Homo sapiens: one gene and its partners. The protein of the gene in region 1 purifies or fractionates together with the protein of each later gene. This does not show direct contact. Each region holds a gene or a part of one and is shown on either strand. Other genes may lie near its edges.

What was found.
Region 2: the proteins of CLDN10 (region 1) and FGF1 purify together in Homo sapiens (affinity purification with mass spectrometry; 3 studies listed by BioGRID and IntAct, with this or other methods). This does not show direct contact.
Region 3: the proteins of CLDN10 (region 1) and ATE1 purify together in Homo sapiens (affinity purification with mass spectrometry; 3 studies listed by BioGRID and IntAct, with this or other methods). This does not show direct contact.

Annotation. Positions count from the first base shown.
Region 1 is NC_000013.11:95,548,129-95,555,812, reverse strand, and holds the start of CLDN10 (claudin-10), read right to left. Parts: upstream 3,094-7,684; 5' UTR 3,060-3,093; coding exon 2,840-3,059; exon of another isoform or gene 1-2,839. UniProt on the Homo sapiens protein: Forms paracellular channels: polymerizes in tight junction strands with cation- and anion-selective channels through the strands, conveying epithelial permeability in a process known as paracellular tight junction permeability.
Region 2 is NC_000005.10:142,683,044-142,690,190, reverse strand, and holds the start of FGF1 (fibroblast growth factor 1 isoform 1 precursor), read left to right. Parts: upstream 1-4,100; 5' UTR 4,101-4,234; intron 4,235-4,487; exon of another isoform or gene 4,488-4,692; intron 4,693-6,376; exon of another isoform or gene 6,377-6,495; intron 6,496-7,147. UniProt on the Homo sapiens protein: Plays an important role in the regulation of cell survival, cell division, angiogenesis, cell differentiation and cell migration. Functions as a potent mitogen in vitro. Acts as a ligand for FGFR1 and integrins.
Region 3 is NC_000010.11:121,897,013-121,904,120, reverse strand, and holds part of ATE1 (arginyl-tRNA--protein transferase 1), read left to right. Parts: intron 1-1,500; coding exon 1,501-1,730; intron 1,731-4,126; coding exon 4,127-4,255; intron 4,256-5,151; coding exon of another isoform or gene 5,152-5,280; intron 5,281-7,108. UniProt on the Homo sapiens protein: Involved in the post-translational conjugation of arginine to the N-terminal aspartate or glutamate of a protein. This arginylation is required for degradation of the protein via the ubiquitin pathway. Does not arginylate cysteine residues.

The DNA of each region.
Region 1 (7,684 bases):
GACAAACAGAGGGCCCCTACCCTGGAAGCTTCCACTTGCAGGTGGGGGAATCAACTCCCCTCCACAGGAAAACACAGTTGCATGATTTAACCCTCCAAGATGTTATTCTGAGAGATACAGAAAAGTAAGTTTGTTTTGCGGTAAGAAATGCCATCTTAAGCCACAGAAGGAAAGTCATCAAAAAAACAGGCTGATAAATATGATTCTATTACAAATTTCAAAGTCCTGTGTGAGAAAAGGCATCATAAATTTAAAAGATGAACAATGGTGTGAGATTGCAACCTACATAACAAATCAAGGACTGACAAATCATCGAAACCACAAAGAAACAACAGAACCATGGGCCTAAGATATGGATGCCAATTCACAAAAGAGAAAAAAAAACGGTCAGTGAGTTTTGACCATTTTTATAACCAGTGATTTTGACCACGGCAATAAGGGAAATGCCAACTAAAATGATAAGATGGCTGGGCGCGGTGGCGCACACCTGTAATCCCGGCACTTTGGGAGGCCGAGGAGGGTGGATGACCTGAGTTCAGGAGTTCGCGATCAGCCTAACATGGTGAAACCCTGTCTCTACTAAATGCAAAAAAAATTAGCCGGGCATGGTGGCACATGCCTGTAATCCCAGCTACTTGGGAGGCTGAGACAGGAGAATCACTTGTACCTGGGAGGCGGAGGTTGCAGTCGGCTGAGATTGTGCCACTGCACTCCAGCCTAGGCAACAAGAGCAAAACTCCGTCTCAAAAAAAAAAAAAAAAAAAACTGGATTAACACAGAGTGGTGAGAATGTGGAGAAGCAGGTATTCTCATACACTGTCAGTGGAAAGTAATTTGACAGTATGAACTGAATATTAAAATGCACGTGTATTCTACTGCTCTTACGATACCATTTCTCAGTGGAATGGAGTCTACAGAAATACACACACATACAAAGAGGTGAATATAAGATTTTCAGTAAAGCACCACCAACAAAGAAAAGCTGGAAAAGGTCCAATGTCCACAATGGATCTATGGTTAACTAAGCCATTTTATGCAGTCTAATGAATATACCATGCAGCAGTTACACAGAGTCAAGTCACTTCTATTAAGTACTGACTTGGAAAAATACATTGATTTTAAAGTGTTGTACAACAGTAGGTAGTGTCATGCCATTTATGTTTTTAAAAGTCATTTTTTAGTCACATGAGCACACAGGAAGGCCATTTTGCAAGCTGGATGGCATAAAAATGTCACTCCTCTCTGTTCTCCTCCCAGCTAACCAGGACAACTATTCCTACTTCCTCTTCACTCCCGGCCCGATCTGCCCCCAAACAGGTATGGTACCACCTCCACTCTCACTGCAGACATGTAGGAGAAAACTTTATTATTCTGCACTTAATAATATTCATAGAGCATTCATTTCCTTCTCTCCCTTGTCCCCCAACTGTCCTACAGAAGGAAGCGTACCTATCTGGCACACTATCTCAGAGAACAATAGAGTTACAACAGAAGAGTGTTCAGAGGACAGTAACACATTGCTGACTATAAATCACAGGAACAAGAGAATGCCTGTTCATCTACCTGGATGCGTGCTCTACAAACCACAGGAAATTCAACGGTAATGCTGGGGAATAAACACTGTTCCGGCTGCTTATTTTACCGAACAGGACACGGACCCGGGCGCCACCCTTCTAAAACTAGATGCGTATTCCTTATACGGAGGTTCCATCAAATACCACGTTGAGCAACAGTTTGCTCTTCGTGGCAAACCCCATCTTAGAGGAATCAACTATTTTCTTTCATTTACCCAGCTATGTAAACAAAACCTGCAAGTGCGGTAATAAAAGAAAAAAACACCTCAAATCTAGAAATATGTAATGTAAATAACTCCTCTTAAGTTTCTGCCAGGATTCGTTTGCTGTAAAATCCTGGAAGCAACGGGCCTAGAACTTGAGCAATCAATGGGACCGGGCTGACATCGGCTGTTGTCTTGAAACTCAACAGAGCCAGAGTTCTGTGTGAATATCCACCAGCTGCTACCAGCATAAGGCCTGACTAACCAGAGCAACGCAGGTGAACCTCCACAAAGGAACAACCCAGGACAGCAGCAGGCACCGGGGACTCGGATGCAGAACTGGTCAGCTCCCGGCGCCACGCTCTCACGGCCCAAGATTCCCTACCCTCTGCGGACTCATCGCGGCACCGCAAGGGCTATTATTTTCCTAAAACTCGGAGGAAGTGTTTGTAGTGTTGCCTAGGCAGACAAGTTTGTAGAAGCTCTTTAAAGGGAAACAATAACAACAACAAATTCTGCAATATGTTTTCCCGCTTCCAACCTCTCAACCCCCACCCCCGCCTACTTTTAAAAGAACCAACGAAATGGCTCAAGGGAGGTCAGGACAAACGGATTTGGCTTGCAATGACACCATTTTTATCAGAACCCAGCCTTCGGGGAACGTAGGGGAGGGAGGTGGAGGAGACAAGCCCCTGCAGCATGAACTCTGGGTCCCAGCGGTCCCCAAGATATGGGGGGTGGGGGAGGGCAGCCGCTTCCTTGACTCTCAGGACCGCAAAGCTTCCCCATCCCCCGACGCCTGGGAGTCACCAACCCGGGCCTGTCTGCGTGTCCCCCCTCCCGGGGTCCCAGGCTCGAACAGGCGCCCCGCGAGACAGCCATCAGGAGAGGGCGGGCACCAGGAGCGTCCCTGGCTCCCTAAGGCCCTGTTGGGAGAGACGGGTCGGGCCTCAGAGGAGTCCAGTCTAGGGGTCCCGCTGGGGGTATTGGGGGCGAGAGGGCGCCTAGCGGGCTGGCCATCAAGGAAGGAGGGCTGAGGGCGGGGGCCGCGGGGATGCAGACCGTCCAGCGCCAGCATGGAGGGGAAGTCCTTGCAGTTGGAGACGCCCGTGGAGTCGGTAACGCACGCCTTCCACAGGTTGGCCCAATAGGTGGCGGTTGTGATGACCGTGCCGTCGATGGTAGACACCTTCCAGTAGTCGGTGGGCAGCGTGGAGGACACCAGTACCCAGCCTGAGATGGAGACCATGAAGGCGATGATCTCCGAAGCCGTGCTAGCCATGCCGCCGGCTGCAGCCGCGCTCGCTCTCCGGCTCCCACTCTGCGCCGCGACCCCCGCACTCCCAACCCCGGGGCTCCGCCTCCCGCCTCCGCCTCCGCCCACCGTCCCCGCCCACCACCCCGCCCAGCGGACCCGGCGCCAGGGGGCGCACGCGACCCCTCACACCCATGCCCTGTCCCTTGAGGGGCCTCAGAGGGCTCGCGGTCGCCCCCCGGGTTCTCCATCTGCAGCTGGCCCGCGCCCGCGTGCGGGAGGAAGGCCGGCCTGCGCTCCCCTGAGCCAAAGGGCCGCGGAGAAGGGCTCGCTTGTTGGAGCGGCTCAGGTTCAGACTGGCAACCGGGTGTGGACAACCTGCTGCGCCCCCACCTCACCACCCCCACCCAGCCCTACCCAAGGCAAATAGCTTGGCTTCCTGACTACCTTGTAGAAGCAGAGCAGGAAAAGCCTTTTGCATGCCCTGAAAGGACACGGTTTGGTAACTCAGCCCTCGGTTTGCTGAACTCTAAAGGTTTGCGTGCCACGCTTGTTTGGGTGACTCTGTTTGACTTGTCAAGGAGGGATCATTGCAGATTCTGGGCTGGAAACCGGCCTTGCCCTCAAAACTCTGCAGTTCTTTTTGGCCTGGTGCTATGCGGAAAGTCATGGCAAAACGGTGCGTGGCACAGGCCTAAAGTCAAGATAGCAGCAGATGGGGCATCCTGACGATCTTGATCTTGCTGGTGTACTCATACTAATGCACTACGCAGAGGGCATTTGTTCAACACATTTTCCCTGTAGGTCCCTTCCAGCTTCCAGGTCTAGAGGCTATTCTATGAAAGGATGCTGTTATCCCAGTCAAAACTGCTATCTTGTCTTTTATTTTTTTTTAAACCACCTCCATCTCTCACGCCTAATTGAAATATAAACTCATTCATTCCTTCATCCCTTCATTGCTGTCTCAAGGTAAACATAAAGATCAAGGTGTACTTCTGGCTCCTGAGGCCACAAATCTGGGCATAAATGAGAGAACAAGGACACGGGTTATTATTTGTCCACTTAAAGGTTCTTGCAGTTTTGTTATGAGCTTCCAGGTTTCACTTGTTGCCAAAAGTAAGGAAAGGTCTAAAACCTATCAATCAGTCTGCTGTGATAAATCTCGTGCTAACCCTCTGTGTCACTATCTTTAGGCAGAAACACTCTGGTTCAATGTGAAGAATTTCTTAATTTCCCTTTGTCACTTTTTTTTTTTAACCAAATGGGTGCCCAGTGAAATTAGAGGCGACAAGGTGACTGGAGAAGAGAGGAAGCTGGACATAGAATCATCAAAACTTAGATTGGAAGAATCACTGTAGACCAGCAGGACACGCTCCACACTCAAAACAATGTTCCTGTCTATTTCTAGAGATAATGTTTAGCCCATGCTCCACCCTTCAGGACCAGCAGTTCAGTGCATGGCAACGTATCTATTCTGTTTTTCTTCATGTTGTTTTGACAGCCCTTTAAAAAAGCTTTTCTTCCTATTGAGCCCCAAATCTGTCTCTCTTCAATGTCTACCCGAATGTTGTAATCTGTGCTCTGAGAACACGAAGTAAGTCCTACTCTTGTTGCAGCCGTGCAGCGGCTGGCAGGTAGTGGGCTTCTCTGTGCTTAATGGTCCCATGGCTTTCGTGAATGGGTACAAGGGTGACAATGCAGACATGGTTACCCTACTGTTCTGCTCTGAACCCCAGCTTGTCCTGATGTATCATGTTAGGTTCACTGGTAAACTAAACTTAAAAACTGAGTTTAAGAAGTATCTCCCTGGCTGGGCGCAGTGGCTCACACCTGTAATCCCAGCACTTTGGGAGGCCGAGGCGGGCGGATCATGAAGTCAGGAGATCGAGACTATCCTGGCTAACACGGTGAAATCCCGTCTCTACTAAAAATACAAAAAAAAAAAAAAAAAAAAAAAAAAGTATCTTCCTAACCTCTTCCTTCTCATTCTCCTTGCTATGCAAATCAGTCACCTTTGAGCAATGACTACAAAGCATCCTCTATTCTTTTGTATGGCTTGCCTTTTTAAAGTGTTTTATCATCTGTTTTTTTGCCCTCCAGCATATTTCCACTATTATTTCTATGCCATATTCCTTCCTGAATAATCTGCCTATTTCTGATCCAATTACTATTTGAAAAACACAAAACCCACTAACCATAACATTTCTTACTGATTTTTCTAAAATTACAAATTACACAAATTTAATACTTTATTTCCTGGCCTTGTTCGATAGTCCCTTTGTTTACCGTGGCTCGCCTATGGTAGATACTCACTAAATTGATTATTTCTTTGTTTTTACTAGACAAAACCCTGACTTACTTTTGCCACAAAACAAGTGTAGTGCTGTGACCTTTAAGACTCAAGCACTTCCTAATTTATCACCTAGTTGCTATGAAGTCCACTGTTTGGATCCAAAGGCACATTGTTTGTTTTAAAGAAAGAACTTTGAAGAATGGTTTGGTGTTTTAAACCAGTCTGCAAAGTTTATTTAACACATAATGTAGCTCTACCCATTATACTTCAAAAATCCATAAGCCCAGATTACCGTTGCAACATAGCATCCGGAAGAAACAAATTCTGAATTCCTGCTTGGAACACTCTTCTCTCTGCCGCATCGCCACACCAGTGAAGCCAGAATCTCTGGGGGTGGCCTTGGTAGCAGTATTTCCAAAACTTCTAATGTGGACTCAGGCTGAGAACCACAGCTCTGACCAGTTGAGCTCTGTGTATGTGTGTATAAACAGTTAATTTAGCATAACGGATGGTGGTATGCATCACAGGAAGAAAGAATATTAAACTCATTGTTGAATACTTTGAAAAAAGAAATATTCTATTACTGTAGAGATTGCAACACACAATTTCAACTTAAAAGGGATGGGAAACACCACAAACAATCCATAAATTAAAACTTAAATGGCAGCATTATTAGTTCCTTTGGCAGCTAAAACAGACTAGGGTCGTCATGCCTGTGGACTTGGTTAATTTTCCTTTCTCCTTTCTATGAGGTTGGACAACCCTAAACTCTTTTCTTTATCTTCCCTAGGATGTACTACATAGTTACTGTGGAAAGCTGTATGTTGGAGGCCATGAGTTCCTGACCAAAGAATGAAAAATGTTAACTTTCTTTAATACCTAGATAATATTATGTAATGAATCAAACATTTTTATTTTAGAATGTCTTATATCTTATGCTTCTCAAGCTAGTTTTGTCAGGAGAATTCTAAAGATATTATGGAGTAGCATATAATCTAAAAAAAGAATGTCCAGAAAATAAAAATGGACCAAATAGAGATTTTTGAAAAGAAGTAATGGATAAATGTCTTGTTTTGCTTTAAGATTATACAGTTCCCAAATAACCTTTGCAGTTAATCTGCAAGCCGATTTACAGAGTACTTTCGACTGATAAATGCTTCCTTATTTTCTTTAGGATTCAGTTCACTGAAATTTCATAAGAGACTATTCTTAATTTAAATATAAAAGTGAATACATCAAAAAAGGTTGCCTCCTCTAAATTATTCAAAGTAACATCTTAGTTAACAATAGTTTAGTCTTTACAAAAAGCTATAGATCTTTTCCAATATGAAAACTACTAACTGATCTATAAATTTGACCCGAAGACATACAATGCCCTCAAACATATTCTGAGCCTTTCTACTTTTGAGGTCTAAGTCACTGGAATTAGCATTGAAAATTATTTCTTTGGCTTATTATGGTTATTAAAGAGAAATAGAGGATCCCCCCCACCCTGGGGTTGTTCAATAGGAGTGAAAACCAGTTTAGCCAACTAAACAGGAGATTTGCAGAAATTCCTTACTTGAGATTCAGTACACCTACCAAGCAACGCAGGTGTGCCTTTCAATAGCTCAAGGATTTTCTAAGCATCAGATTTGGTTTCAGTATACATTAGCTCCTTCCTAGATTCCAGTGAGGTGGCGTGCTGCTAATCAGGTGGGAAGAAACTGAATTCCTGATGATACGGTATTAACTAAAAAAAACAACTGCCCAGGAGCCAAGTATTGTTACATCACATTAAAGAAGACATTAATGCCGGTACCAAGATATTAAAAGAGCATATCTGTGTTCTTTTTCCTTCCATTTTCCCTAACATTTCATTTATCTTAATGCTTATGCAAATCCAATGATATTTGTAATCTACTTAGCATGAAAGCTACAGAGTGATAGGAATAGTTACAGAATGAACAGTTATTCTCACCATTGCATCACCATTCATATATAAATATATATCTATAATTTTTTTTGCAAATTATAACTATAAAAACAGTTGCCTTATTCTGTCATTTGGCAACCTGTGAAGTTGTACTCCATCAGAATATTTCTATGGGCCTATTACAAGTCAGTGCCATATACCTTGTGGATTTGTTTTTCATGCATTCATTTGAAACACACTCATTCCCAATTCTAAATTATCTTAGTAGACTCCTCTTGAGCCCCTGAAGGGGAGGGGTAAGGTTTGGGCCCCAGCAGGAATACCCTTCGAGCCTGGAATTACTCTCACTCTGTGATGCTAGAACATTCCAGGGCTTGTAGACAGGTTGGGTACATTTTGTTTGTCCATAAGCACTTGATGAATATCAATATAACCTCCCACCCA
Region 2 (7,147 bases), on another chromosome or scaffold:
CGCCACCACGCCCGGCTAATTTTTTGTATTTTTAGTAGAGACGGGGTTTCACCGTGTTAGCCAGGATGGTCTCGATCTCCTGACCTCTTGATCCGCCCGCCTCAGCCTCCCAAAGTGCTGGGATTACAGGCGTGAGCCACCGTGCCCGGCCAAGGTAAAATATTTTAAAATTAAAAAACTAGGATTGAGGGGCCGGGCGCGGTGGCTCACGCCTGTAATCCCAGCACTTTGGGAGGCCGAGGTGGGCAGATCACGAGATCAGGAGATCGAGACCATTCTGGCTAACACGGTGAAACCCTGTCTCTACTGAACAAAATACAAAAAACTGGCCAGGCGTGGTAGCGGGCGCCTGTAGTCCCAGCTACTCCGGAGGCTGAGGCAGGAGAATGGCGTGAACTCGGGAGGCGGAGCTTCCATGAGCCGAGATCGCGCCACTCCACTCCAGCCTGGGCGACAGAGCGAGACTCTTGTCTCAGAAAAAAAAAAAAAAAAAAAACTAGGATCGAGGAAAACACAGTAGAATAGGCGACAGACAATCAATATTAGAGGAGAGGAAACCCAGCTCTCATGGGTAGGACCCTTCCCAAGCATCCTCCCCTGAAGTTGCTGAAGAATCAGGCTAACCAGCGGCGGGCAAGCGCATATGATTGGATTTCAGTGGGATCAGGGTGAGGCACCTTCCTTCTTGAGGGTCATTGGACTCAGCTTCTGTCCTGCAGTTCTGGTGATGTTTGTGGCTGGCTGGTCTCCTTGAGCAACGAATACAATTTCCCATGAATGTCTGCTGCATTTCCCATTGCCCTCTGTCATCGTGGCGCTTGCTTCACCATGAGACCAGGACACCCTTCATCTAACTGCCTCATTGGGCATAAACAGAGGGAAATGTGTTGCTGGAGGGAGAGAGTGGCATGCAGCATCCAATTTCTCCCGTCAGCTGATTAAGATTTGTTGTGCCTGAACACGGTCAAATGAGATTAGAAAGAAAATGCAATGTGTCTGGTGTGTGTTTCACATAACTGTATCATTTGTGTAAACAGGATGAATGAAGGGGAATTTTTAAGGCAAATATTGAATGTCATTCTCAAGAATCAAGGACAAGACACCAGGGCTTATGTTCTGCCTGGAGAGAAAAAAAATGTATATATTGGGGGCATTTTGAACCCTGTTGATTCAATAATGCTCTGCTTCTTTCATGCTGGTACAGTTAAAATGTGATAGTTATATGTCTGATTTTCAGAGACACTGAGCACAAAATAAGTAAAACCACAGAACCACCACATTCTACCTTTGTTGCCCTTCTAAAGCTCTTAGGAGAGGTGTAGAGCCACTTTCTGTAATAGCAGCTGCCTAAGTGCTCTGCATTGAGTCCATCTGTTAGGATGCGAAAGGAAAAATCTCACCTCTGGCAAGAGCCACAACATTTTAGATGTGGATGACTCCGGGGCAAGCCCACGTCTCTGTGGATAAACCTACTAGAATTTTTTTTGGTCCTCCAAACCTGTAATTTTCTTCCTTTCTCCAGGGACCCCTCTGCAGTACTAGCAGCCTCTCCTACAAGGTTTTATCAGGGCAGAAATGGCTTTTAAAGTGGTGTAAGAGCTTTGGAGGAAGACATGATTTCTGTTACATGTTCTGCATACGATCTAGCATATTGTGGATGCTTAATAAGCAGCTTCGACGGCTATTATTTCCACTGACTATTTCCAGGCACAGAGCTGGAGGGCTATTCTGAGACCAGACTTTTCGACTAGGTCATTGCAAAGTCCCTTCCTACTCTAAATAACAGTGGGGCTGAAAAGCATTCACATGATCATGTCTCCAGACTGGGAAAAATCTCAATATATGTTATTTAAAAGGTAAATCTAGATAGTAACAGAAGTTCAAATAAATGTAGAAATTGAAGGATATTATAATGAAATTTTAAAAAATTTCCACATTGGCGGGAATTATATTACAGTAAATACCTTAACTGAGGATTATTTCCCAGTATTTGGACAGTAATATTGCCAAACACCCAATATGCAGTAGATAAATTAGCATATGTCAGTAGCTAGGGATTATATTTGCCTAAAAGCTGTGTGTGTATGTGTGTGTGAGTGTGTGTGTTTAAACAGGGTTTCACAACTGGACATAATGGAGAAATAAAATAAAATAATGACTTGCATTTGCATTCCCTGCGTTCAAGGTGCTCGAACACACTTGGACACATTTGATTGTCATGATAATCCTGTGAGTTTGCAGGGAAGATATGAGTAGGAAAGTCTCATTAATTTCCACTAGGAGGGGGGGAATCTGGAGCCCTTGGGCTGAATTGCCCAACAATGGCCAACCACACAGTGCAGGCAGGTTAACACGGGGTTAACCTAAAGCAGGGAGACCTGGTTTTAGTCACAATGAGGACTTTAACTAAGGGTACCACCTGAGTGAGTCTCTGAGTCTGCATCTCTGTCCTTAGGATTTTTAGGGTATTTTCTAACTTTCAAGTCTATCATTTCACGTAGTTAAAAAGGGTTAACATGCATACTACATCTAGCATAATGATTCTTTAATACTTGGAAAACCATTGTCCAAAATATTTTCTTTAAGGATTCAGAAGGCCCTTTGGAAACTTGCAGATACTCAGGAAGATTATTATGTTTTAAAGCAAATTATCAGTATCCTTTGCAGGTGTAGAAGTGGTAGTTCATGAGGGTTCCAATTAATAGGGTCTCAAGAAATCAACATTTTCTGTATATTCAAGTCCCTTTTGGGAGCTGCTGCTTATCCGTGATTGGAGTTCTGTGATGATTGAGCCTCTAGCTCTTTAGTACAGGACACGAGCTCCTTCTCCAAGGCTCATCCCTTCAGAAGGCACATGGATGGCTTCCCCACACCCCCATGCTCTGTGGGGAGTGTGGGGAACAAACTGCAACTCCATCCTCTCTACACCTAAGCAACTACCCAGAGGAGGTAGAGACTGGAGAGCATATTTCTAGTTCTGACAGGTCGATCTGTACCTCTCTACCTGAATCATCAGGTGAGCAGGCTTGTGTACATACATGGGAGTGCATGCGTGCACACACACACACACACACACTCATGCCTTCTGGGCTCAAACGCCTGCATAAGCAGGAGCGACTCTTCAATTATTGGAAACTATTAATCATGTTTTCATTTGGTTTCTTCAAAGACAGCTCTTGATCCATATCCTTTCAGTCCACCTTATTCCCCACCTTCTAGCCAAAGAGTTATTTGTCCAGACAGCTCCCTCCCTTCCTTACCCTGTCCTGGCCAGAAGTCTAAAGAGGATGTCCATGGCCCATTGAAGAATTTCCCACCCCTGAAGTTGAGCTCACCTGAGGATTCACCTCATCCAACGGGGACAGGCTTGAACAGTGGAGAGGGAGGACAGAGCTGCCACCTCTGCAGCCCCTCGCCAGTCCCAACCTGGATGGCTTTTGCCTCGATTGACTTCGTAAAATGCCATTTGTAGGGCTTGGCTCTGGGGATGGCACAGACAGACACACACACGCACACATACACGTTGCCACACACAGACACCTACACCCCATGCAGGGATGCCAGATGACAGAACAGAAAAGGCCTCCCTTTCATCCAGCAGCCTTCTGACTCCAGAGGAGAGTCTCCGAGCCACGACCTGCTGTTTCCCTGGCAACTCAGGCCTCAAAATAAACAGGATTCTGCTCAGACGGGCCAGAAGTCCATTCGGCTCACACATTTGCCCCAAGACAAACCACGTTAAAATAACACCCAGGGTAGCTGCTGCCACCGTCTTCTGTCTCTACCTCCCTCCTGGCTGGCCAATGGCTCTGTGTTCCTGGGCCTGCTGCTGGCTGTCCAGAGTAGGGGTTGCTTAGAGCTGTGTGCATCCCTGCGGGTGGTGTGGGAGTGGGCGGTTGTCTAAAGGCAGGTCCCCTCTACTGATAAACAAGGACCGGAGATAGACCTAGAGGCTGACATTCTTGGCTCCCCCAGCCTACACCCCCCCCACCTCGATTTCCCACAGAGCCCTAGGGACGGGTAGCCAGCTCTGTGGCATGGTATCTGGAGGCAGGCCAGCAACCTGATGTGCATGCCACGGCCCGTCCCTCTCCCCACTCAGAGCTGCAGTAGCCTGGAGGTTCAGAGAGCCGGGCTACTCTGAGAAGAAGACACCAAGTGGATTCTGCTTCCCCTGGGACAGCACTGAGCGAGTGTGGAGAGAGGTACAGCCCTCGGCCTACAAGCTCTTTAGGTAAGAATCAGGGCATCTGATCTGGGAAACAGAGCAGGTTATAGCTGAGGTTGTGTGTGTGTGTGTGTGTGTGTGTGTGTGTTTTGTGTGTGTGTCCAAGTGCAAATGTAATGCTACTTGGAGAAGAAAGAAAATGTTTCAAGCAGATAGCACTGGAACCAGGACTCCTGCAAGTGAATCTCAAGAAGCTCACCTTTGGCTGGGTTTAAACCATGGTGCAGACTGCTCTGGGGGAAGGGCATGCTGATGTCACAGACATGTAAAAATAGTACTTCTAGTTTAGAGACTGCAAAAATATGAATGCACCATGCCGCCACATTATCTCCATTCCTCCAGTGCCCGCCTGACACTGGCCCTGAATCAGGGCTGGAGGGGGCAGGCATTTCTCATTTACTAAAGTGCTGGATGCAGCCCTTGAGGTTCGGCAGAAGCAGAAAGCTGCGGTGAGTCTGGCTGTGGTGAGTGTGGCTAGCATTATCGTGCTGTGTCACACTAGCTCTCTCTTGGGAAGCCTGGATATTCAGCTGCCTTGGAAAAGCTGTCCACATGGTGGGCAGCTTAGATTTTATTAACCTTTTGATATAGAAGTCAGGCTGAAGTTTAGGATTATCTGGGTGTGTCAGCTCAGGGTTTTGGTAGGGTGGTATTCCCATGGCCCCATGGTCACTCGGATTACTTCTTTCCTTCCTTTCTGATCTTGGAATATCACATCCTCGTTTCAGTACCCCTCCGATGGGCACTAGGAAAGAAGGAGTCAGAATGGACAGAGTCTCTGGCACATACACTATCCACACCCACATCACAATTACATGCCAAAGGTATGCAAGGCTGCTGCAGAGGAGCACTTCAGAAATGCAGCCCTCCAGATACTGAGATGGAAATTTCAGGCATTTAATCAAGTACGCACTTTTCAGAGACCCAAGGGAGGCCCAAGGGCTCACTCTGCCTCAGCAGAATTCAAACACTCCATTATTCTCTAGCTATGTTACATCCACCCACCACCCCACCACCCCCGCTTGCCTCCCTCCTTTCTGCACTGGTGACTGGCACTTTTCCTTTCATTCTCTACAGGGATGCGATTGTTTACGAGTTAGCTCCCCGACCCAGTGGGAGGACTTGAGCATCCCGGCTGAGGGCGAGCCAGGCTGCCCCTCCACCAGCTCTGTGTAACAGTGAGCCAGCAGCAGTGGCATCAGGGCTGAAAGGAGTGGGCCTCGCTTTGGGAAGTGATGTCTAGTGAAGGGTGGCCAGCAGTTTACTGGAGCTGTTTGTCAGTGTGGATGACTGAGGATTTTGGTGGAGACTCTGATTCACAGTCGCAAATTCCCTTTTCCTTTGTTTTCTTTGTGTTGGTCTTTGAGGGCTTCCGAGGAAAGTCCCCTCTTGAGATGTTGATCTGAAGGCAAGATCAACAATTTGCTGTTGGCAGAGGGACTCAGAGAGACTTTCTTCTGTTGCCCCTGCCTTTGTTAGTGTGAATAAATGGGTTTGCAAATGAAGTATGTAATCCAAAGCAAACTTAGTATGCAAAACTTTAAGAGAAAACACAATGAGTTTCTTTTAAATTCTCTCTCAAATCTGCTGTTTACATATGACTTGACTAGTTCTGCAAAGGATCAAGGAAGCCATATCTGGTTAAGTGGTTTGACTTTACAGGTGAGTAGCACCAGCCATGATGATAACATTCAGTGGAGATGGTGGGCGGACATCCATATGCCGTATCTACATTGAAGGGACATCTCATCTTGGGACAGTGCAGCCACTCACTTAGGTGACATGCATTCTGTGAACTACACATAAACTATTAGGATCTTGGGACTGCTGTTACAGGAAAGAGATCCAGACCCCAAGAGAGGGTTCTTGGATCTCAAGCAAGAAAGAAGTCAGGGCGAGTCCGCAGTGCAAAGCAAAAGCACTTTCTTTTTATTAAGAAAGTAAAGTGGTGAAAGCACAGCTGCTCCACTGACAGAGTAGGGTGTTCCCAAAAGTAAGAGGAGGAACACATCCATCCTAGGTACCATGCTCGTATATATAGGATTTTAAAAAGATCATGGGGAGATGTGCTCTGCTACAAGGGTTTGTGATAAAGGATAAAGGATTAATTTTCTTTTCCTTTTTTTTTTTTTTTTTTTTTTGAGACAGAGTTTCACTCTTGTTGCTCAGGCTGGAATGCAATGGCACAATCTCGGCTCACTGCAACCTCCGCCTCCCGGGTTCAAGCAATTCTCCTGCCTCAGCCTCCCAAGTAGCTGGGATTACAGGTGTGCGGCACCATGCCCGGCTAATTTTGTATTTTTATTAGAGACGGGGTTTCTCCATGTTGCTAAGGCTGGTCTCTAACTCCCAATGTCAGGTGATCCAACCGGCCTCCCAAAGTGCTAGGATTACAGGTGTGAGCCACTGCACCTGGCCTAATTTTCTTAATTACTATATTTTGCAAGAATCCATATTATCTTTAAAGCAAAATTAGGAATGCATTTGTTCTCAAAATATCGGGCTACCTGGAGACTCCCAAGTCTGAGTCTGTGTAGTAAACATTATCAATCTATTCCCTTAACCATAAATATCTGGAGTCTAGGAATGCCTAATTTTCTGGGAATGCAGCCCAGCAGGTCCCAGCCTCATTTTCCCAGCCCTCACTCAAGATGGAGTTGCTCTGGTTCGAACGCCTCTGACACTGTCAGCCTGTATGCTAGCTCCCAGGGGTTAGGTATTGTGCAGAGTGGACACACCCATTTCCACCTCATTAAATAAGCAGTGCATGGCTAATGCAGTATCCCTTGATTTAGGTTGCTGGAAAAATAATCTGAAGTTGTTTGTGCCACAGGCATACCATGCTTTAGGTAAATCTAACATCTATACATGTGGGTGAGAGTACTTTTTCTGAAGAAAGGGTTCACTAATCAACAAATG
Region 3 (7,108 bases), on another chromosome or scaffold:
TTCCCAGCTACTCTGGAGGCTGAGGCAGGAGAATTGCTCGAATGGTCCGGTAGGCAGAGGTTGCAGTGAGCTCAGATGGCGCCACTGCACTCCAGCCTGGGTGACAGAGCGAGACTCTGTCTCAAAAAAAAAAAAGAAAATTTGGAGAAAAGAGAACACTACAAAGAAAGGTAAATCCTGTCTCTGTTTCTGAAACAAAGTAAAATGACTGTTACCATGGTGTCTCCTTTCCAGGTTTTTTTCTAAGTATTTTTATTTAGTTTATAATAGTAAAAATTTTTTTATTTTAAAGGGATGTCAGTTTGATATTTGGTCTGTTAATTAGAACAAAACTCTGATTAACTACAGCTGAACTAATGAGACCCAAATACCTGCAGTATTTGGAGAAAGACACAGATACCTTCAACTAAGCAAGGATTCCTTTTTTGTTTTTTGAGACAGAGTCTCACTCTGTCGCCCAGGCTGGAGTGCAGTGGTGCCATCTCAGCTCAGCACAACCTCTGCCTCCTGGGTTCAAGTGATTCTAATGCCTCAGCCTCCTGAGTAGCTGGGATTACAGGTGTGTGCTACCACACCTGGCTGATTTTTGTATTTTTAGTAGAAATGGGGTTTCACCATGTTGACCAGGCTGGTCTCGAACTCTCAACCTCAGGTGATCTGCCCGCCTTAGCCCCCCAAAGTGCTAGAATTCCAGGTGCACAAGGATTCTTTTAATTTAAAAAAACCTGTCAGTGTTTGCGCTGGGATCAGTATTCCTTTATACCTGGTTCCTAAGTATTTATGTTACCAGTGCTTTCAGAGAAATGTCCCTCAGAAATGTTGGGCAGAGATAGCAGTGTCCTTTTAATGCAGCAGGTACTTTGATTTGATTGTGTTCTTCCTCACAAAGGCAGAGAAGTGGATGAATGTTTTTTTTTAAAAAAAGATATTTGGGCCGGGCCTGGTGGCTCATTCCTGTAATCCCAGCACTTAGGGAGGCCAAGGTGGGTGAATCACGAGGTCAGGAGTTTGAGACCAGTCTGTCCAAGGGAGTTTGAGACCAGTCTGGCCAACATGGTGAAACTCCATCTCTACTGAAAATACAAAAATTAGCCAGGCACGGTGGCACACACCTGTAGTCCCAGCTACTCGGGAGGTTGAGGCAGGAGAATTGCTTGAACCTGGGAGGCGGAGGTTGCAGTGAGCTGAGATCATGCCATTGCACTCCAGCCTGGGTGACAGAGCGAGACTCTGTCTCAAAAAAAAGAAAAAAAAGATTTTCAGCAGTAAGAGCCACCTTGGAAAGTTTCTGTGCTATTTACTTTCTCTAGCAACTCCCACTTCTAAGGTAGAATTTTAGATCCACTTACAGCTCTGTATCAGGATCCTCTGAAACATCTACCCCAAAGCTAGCCTAACCATTGAAACTCTTTGGACTTACACTGTAGAATCTTTGAGACATGTGAAAAAACTTTTCTAGAACCAAATGTGATTGGTCTAATATTTTAAAATTCTTTTTAGGCAAAGGGGCTGATTTGAGTAAGCCTCCATGTCGAAAAGCAAAGGAAATCCGGAAAGAAAGGAAAAGGTTAAAACTAATGCAGCAGAACCCAGCTGGAGAACTTGAGGGTTTCCAGGCTCAAGGTCACCCACCATCTTTGTTTCCACCAAAGGCTAAATCCAACCAGCCAAAATCACTCGAAGATTTAATTTTTGAGTCTTTACCAGAGAATGCATCACACAAGTTAGAGGTACTTTGGAGGACTTTTGTTGTTTGTTTTATTATGATTTTTTTTTGTTTGGGCATATCGTTTATTTTTATTTGAAGTTCTAATTAGTTGATGTTTGCTAGTTAAATAATGAGAATTTAAAAGAAATTAAAGAGAACTGGGAAGAAGTAACATTTGTATTTACTAAGTTAACTGCTGTTTGAGGGAAACTCCTTTTTTTTTAAAAGACTTTTTGAGAATACATAGTTGGCCACCAAACTTGTGAAAACAGTGTCAATTTTAGCATGCTACCTTGATTGAAATTTAATAGTTAAAATGAAAGAAATACTCTTTAAAATTGTGTTTTTAGCAGTTTTGGTTTAGATAGTGAAAGACAATAGATTACACAAGGCAAATCACTATTTCATCCATTATAATATTCTGATCTTGGTAAAGACAGCAAATGGTGTCATATACATAAGCCAGCAGTTAGGAATTATCTAAATAGGGCTAAATTGTACTGCTGAAATCCTCTCTCATTAGTGCCAAAACCACTTTGGGCATAATATGAATACTTTTAGAGCCAAATTCCTCCATTTTTCCAAATTTATTTTCGTTTCTAGATCAGATCAAGATTTCTCAGTATTAGTTTCTCATATATAAAATTCAAAAACAAGGGCTGGATGTGGTGGCTCACACCTGTAATCCTAGCACTTTGGTAGGCCGAGGCAGGTGGATCTCTTGAGGTCTGGTGTTTGAGATCAGCTTGGCCAACACAGTGAAACCCCGTCTCTACTAAAATATAAAAATTGGCCAGGCGTGGTGGCGTGCACCTGTAATCCCAACTCCTAGAGAGGCTGAGACACCAGAATTGCTTGAACCCAGGAGGTGGAGGTTGTAGCGAGCTGAGATCACACCACTGCACTCCAGCCTGCGTGACAGAGCAAAAGACTGTCTCAAAAAAATTCAAAAACATTAGCCATAATGATTTTTATCTTATTCTCATATGTGATTAGTAACTGGTCAGCCTTTGAATTTTGTAGCTTACTATCATCTAAAAATATCACTTATCACTGAAGTCCTGATAATAAAAATTAACTTTCATGCATTCTAAGCCTTAATTCAGTATATGTATTATCAGACGTAGAATTTAGCTTTTTTTTTTGAGACGGAGTTTCACTCTTGTTGCCTAGGCTGGAGTGCAATGGCGCGATCTCGGCTCACTGCAACCTCTGCCTCCTGGGTTCAAGCGATTCTCCTGTCTCAGCCTTCTGAGTAGCTGGGATTACAAGTGCCCACCACTACGCCCGGCTAATTTCTGATATTTTTAATAGAGACAGGGTTTCACCATGTCAGCCAGGCTGGTCACGAACTCCTGACCTCAGGTGATCACCCGCCTCGGCCTCCCAAAGTGCTGGGATTAGAGGTGTGAGCTACCTTGCCTGGCCAGATTTTAGCTTTTATAACTCCTTGGCTACTCTGATTTGGATACAGATTTTTTTGTCCTTCCAAAATTGTAAACAGAGTTGAATACACTACTTAAAATATTTTACAAGGTGTCTTTTATCTTTGATCATAAATAGTAATGTATTCAGGAGGCCAAGCACGCTTAACATAACAGTTCTCCAGTGGTTACTTGTACTTTTTGAATGTAATGATACTCAGGATGTATAGAGATCTTTTACCACTGGGTGTCGCTCTTTCTTCATAGAATTACGTCTCACGGCACACATGTCCAGTTTCCAGCTGTTTTCATTGCATTGCATTTGACTGTTTTACTGTTCTGTTTTGCTAATACATTTTAAGTGGCTAGTAAATAATGTTAAAGTAAATGTTAGCCATTACTGCGTGCAATTACTGTTTTAAACTTATCCTTATTTTACAAGGTTACTTGACCAAGATGGTGACATTGTAAGATTTGAACAAAGGAAATGTGACTTCAGAGTCATGGTTGTTAACTATGCTATGAAGTAGGAAAACTTTATGAGGTCTTTTTAACTCAAACAGTCAAGTTTTAAGTTGAGGGTTAGCAATGATGAATGAGTGGCCAAAAAATGTATTCATATTTTTAGTCTTTCTTAGAATTACTGGTAGTTGTGCACAACTAGAGGGTATTTATTTGTGTGTGTATGTGTCGTGTGTGTACGAGTGCTGGAAATACTCTGCCAGTTTACAGTAGAGGCAGGCTTACATAATTCAGTCATGAAAGCTGAGGCTTATAGTTTAGAGGGGATCGTCCTCTTCTTAATGAGTCTGTAAGTTACAAAAATAACTTTTTTCTTTATTTACTAACTGGTTGGTTTTTAATATTAAAATATTTAGGTGCTTTAATAATTGTTGAAACTTGGTTTCTTGGATGGGAGTTACTCTTAATGCATATTCCACAGAATGAATAAATGAATGAATTAGTAAACTTGTTTTTTTAACTGCTTCTGAAGGTGAGGGTGGTGAGATCATCTCCACCAAGTTCGCAGTTCAAAGCCACACTTCTGGAGTCTTACCAGGTCTATAAACGTTACCAGATGGTTATTCACAAGAACCCACCTGATACGCCAACCGAAAGCCAGGTCAGCAGGCCAAGTGTAATTTTCCTGTGCAAACAGAGCTTTCCCTTCCACTTAATATCATTTAATGAAATCTTGGTTTATTTGTGCTACATTTTATTTGTGTTCAATTTGCAGCATATCTGCAAAGACCTAAGACTGAATTAATGGACATTCTGAAAGTGCAAATTTTACCTAGTGCCATGTTAAGTACCAGCCATGTATAATTTCAGAGTCAAAGTAACATGTAAAATTATTTAAAGTCACTATTTTAGATGCATTTATCTAAAAGATAGTAATAGAGCTCTAAATTAAAATACCTGTGAGGAAAACTCAGGAAACTATATTTTTATGGTAGATACGTACTTTGCCTAACATGATTTTAATGCTTTATCTGTATTTGAAAGATGTATGTAGGAATAATTGATCCCAGTTAAATTATTCTTTATTAATGTGCTACCCTTGCACAATTGAGTGGGACTAAAAAAGGAAGATAGTAGAACATTTTAATAGAAGAACTCATATGCTAATAATTTTGTAAGTTAAATGACCCAAGAAAAATCTGTAAAGGAAAAAAGCTTAAAACACTTAGTATAAGTAGAGGTGGCAAAAGTAGCGATCATCACCATGATTAACAACAATATTGACTCTAGTTTATGCAGAAAACTACAATTAGTGGAGAGAGAGAAAAAAAAAAGAACAAATTGTTGGCTCTTATGAGGTTGAGATTTTCATAAGTTTTAGTACAGTTAGCACTTCGGTCTCTGCACCCGTCTGCCTCGTCTAAGGTTTCTTTTCATGACAAATTCGAGTTCGAGCTTTGGCGTGGATTTGTGGAGATCTTACTGTAGCCTCACCTTCAGAAGCATATCATCAGAGATGTTTCAATAGCATTTGCTTGTATTTTCCTTGCTCTGAAGGTGAGGTTAGTACCTGTCTCCTTTGAGGACCCAGAGTTCAAGTCGTCTTTCAGCCAGTCCTTTTCTTTGTATGTCAAGTATCAAGTGGCCATACACCAGGATCCACCCGATGAATGTGGGAAGACTGAGGTATTGTTAACTGTTGTTTTCTGTGTTGATAAGGTTGTCTGGGAAGAAGTATAATATATACCATTTTCTTGTCAGGTGGAGCTGATGACCCTTTCAGTGTGTATTACTGAACTTCTGTGAACACTCACATGACTCATACATGTGAGCATTTTAAATCCTTAGAAAAAAGGATTGCAAATTCAGGATGCGTTCTTAGTGTTTTCTCTAGGAACCTGAAAGTAGTGGTTTATAAGGTCAGTCATCCACTCTAGGTCAACAGTCATTTACTGAGTGCCCATCGTGTGCCAGACTGTGCACCACAGAACAAAAGGAGTCTCTGTCTTCAAGAAATTGATAATCAAATGGGAAAGACAGACCAATAAGCAAAAATACCTTAACAACAAGTGAATTAGAAAGAAATACCTACACCTAACCTACCGAACATCATAGCTTAGCCTCGCCTGCTTTACACATTCTCAGAACACTTATAATCTGCAGTTAAGCAGAATCATCTAACACAAAGCCTATTTTATAATAAAATGTTGAATATCTCATGTAATTTATTGAATACTGTACTGAAAGTGAAAAACGGAATCGTTTTCCATCATTGTAAAGTTGAAAAAGCATAAGTCCAACCATTATAAGTTGGGGACCTTCTGTTAGATATAATATGGTTTAACGGGCGTTTATTGAGGGTCTGTCTTTGTCAGTCTTGGGATATTGAAATGAATGAGATGGCATCGTTGTCACAGTAGAACCATGGTATGTTGGAAGAAAGAGGCCAACAGATGCAGAAGAATTAGAGTTTTGATTTTTTGACTGCTTTTGTTTTTTTAATGACACGATGTGTAAGCTAAAAAGAGAGGGTTAATACAACAGGAGTTAATGCTGCATGTTCCCTGAGAAAGGGCTCACTTCCCAGATCCCCCAGAGTCTTCTGGTTAAAGTGTCATTTGCAGACCTGCAGCATCAGCAGTACCTGGAACACAGACTCTCAGTCCTATTCATTCAACATCTACTTTTTTTTTTTTTTTTTTGAGACGGAGTCTTGCTCTGTTGCCAGGCTGGAGTGCAGTGGCGCAATCTCTGCTCACTGCAACCTCCACCTCCCGGGTTCAAGCGATTCTCCTGCCTCAGCCTCCTGAGTAGCTGGGACTACAGGCGCGTGCCACCACAGCCGTCTAATTTTTATATTTTTAGTAGAGATAGGGTTTCACCATGTTGGCTAGGTTGGTCTTGATCTCTTGATCTTGTGGTCTTCCTCCTTGGCCTCCCAGAGTGCTGGGATTACAGGCATGAGCCACCGGGTCCGGCCAGAATCTACATCTTAAACTGGGTTTCCAAAGGATTCAGATGCACATTTCAGTTTTGAGAGGCTATGTCCTAGGTTCCCTGTTGATCCATGCCACTGTGGGTGATAGCATTTGCAGATAGTAAGGATTCTGCTAGGCCTAGGAAGCTTCCTTTGATATTCTCAGGGGGTCTTTTTGCTTTCTGAACTTTCCTCCTTCCTAGTGCTCTGGAGATGATGCCTTTCTACCTCCCTGCTTAGCAGGTAGGAATAGTTGGACAAAATGTTTCTGTGGCCCGGTGTATTTATTCAAGACTTCCCCAGGAGCTTCTCCTAGTAGGCTTCAGGCCTCTGGGAAGTCCCTTTATGCAGACTTAGAGCAGCACTAAAGGCATTCATAGTCTGAATTGGGGTGGTAGACAGGTATGCAATTCCAGTGCCTTTAGAATTAGCCATTGGATTAGTAGGGACAGCCAGCTTAGTGTGAAACTGGAGGTTAGAGAGGTTTTTCTGAGGGAAGTGACATTTGAGCCAAGTCTGGAAAGATGAGTAGGTGTT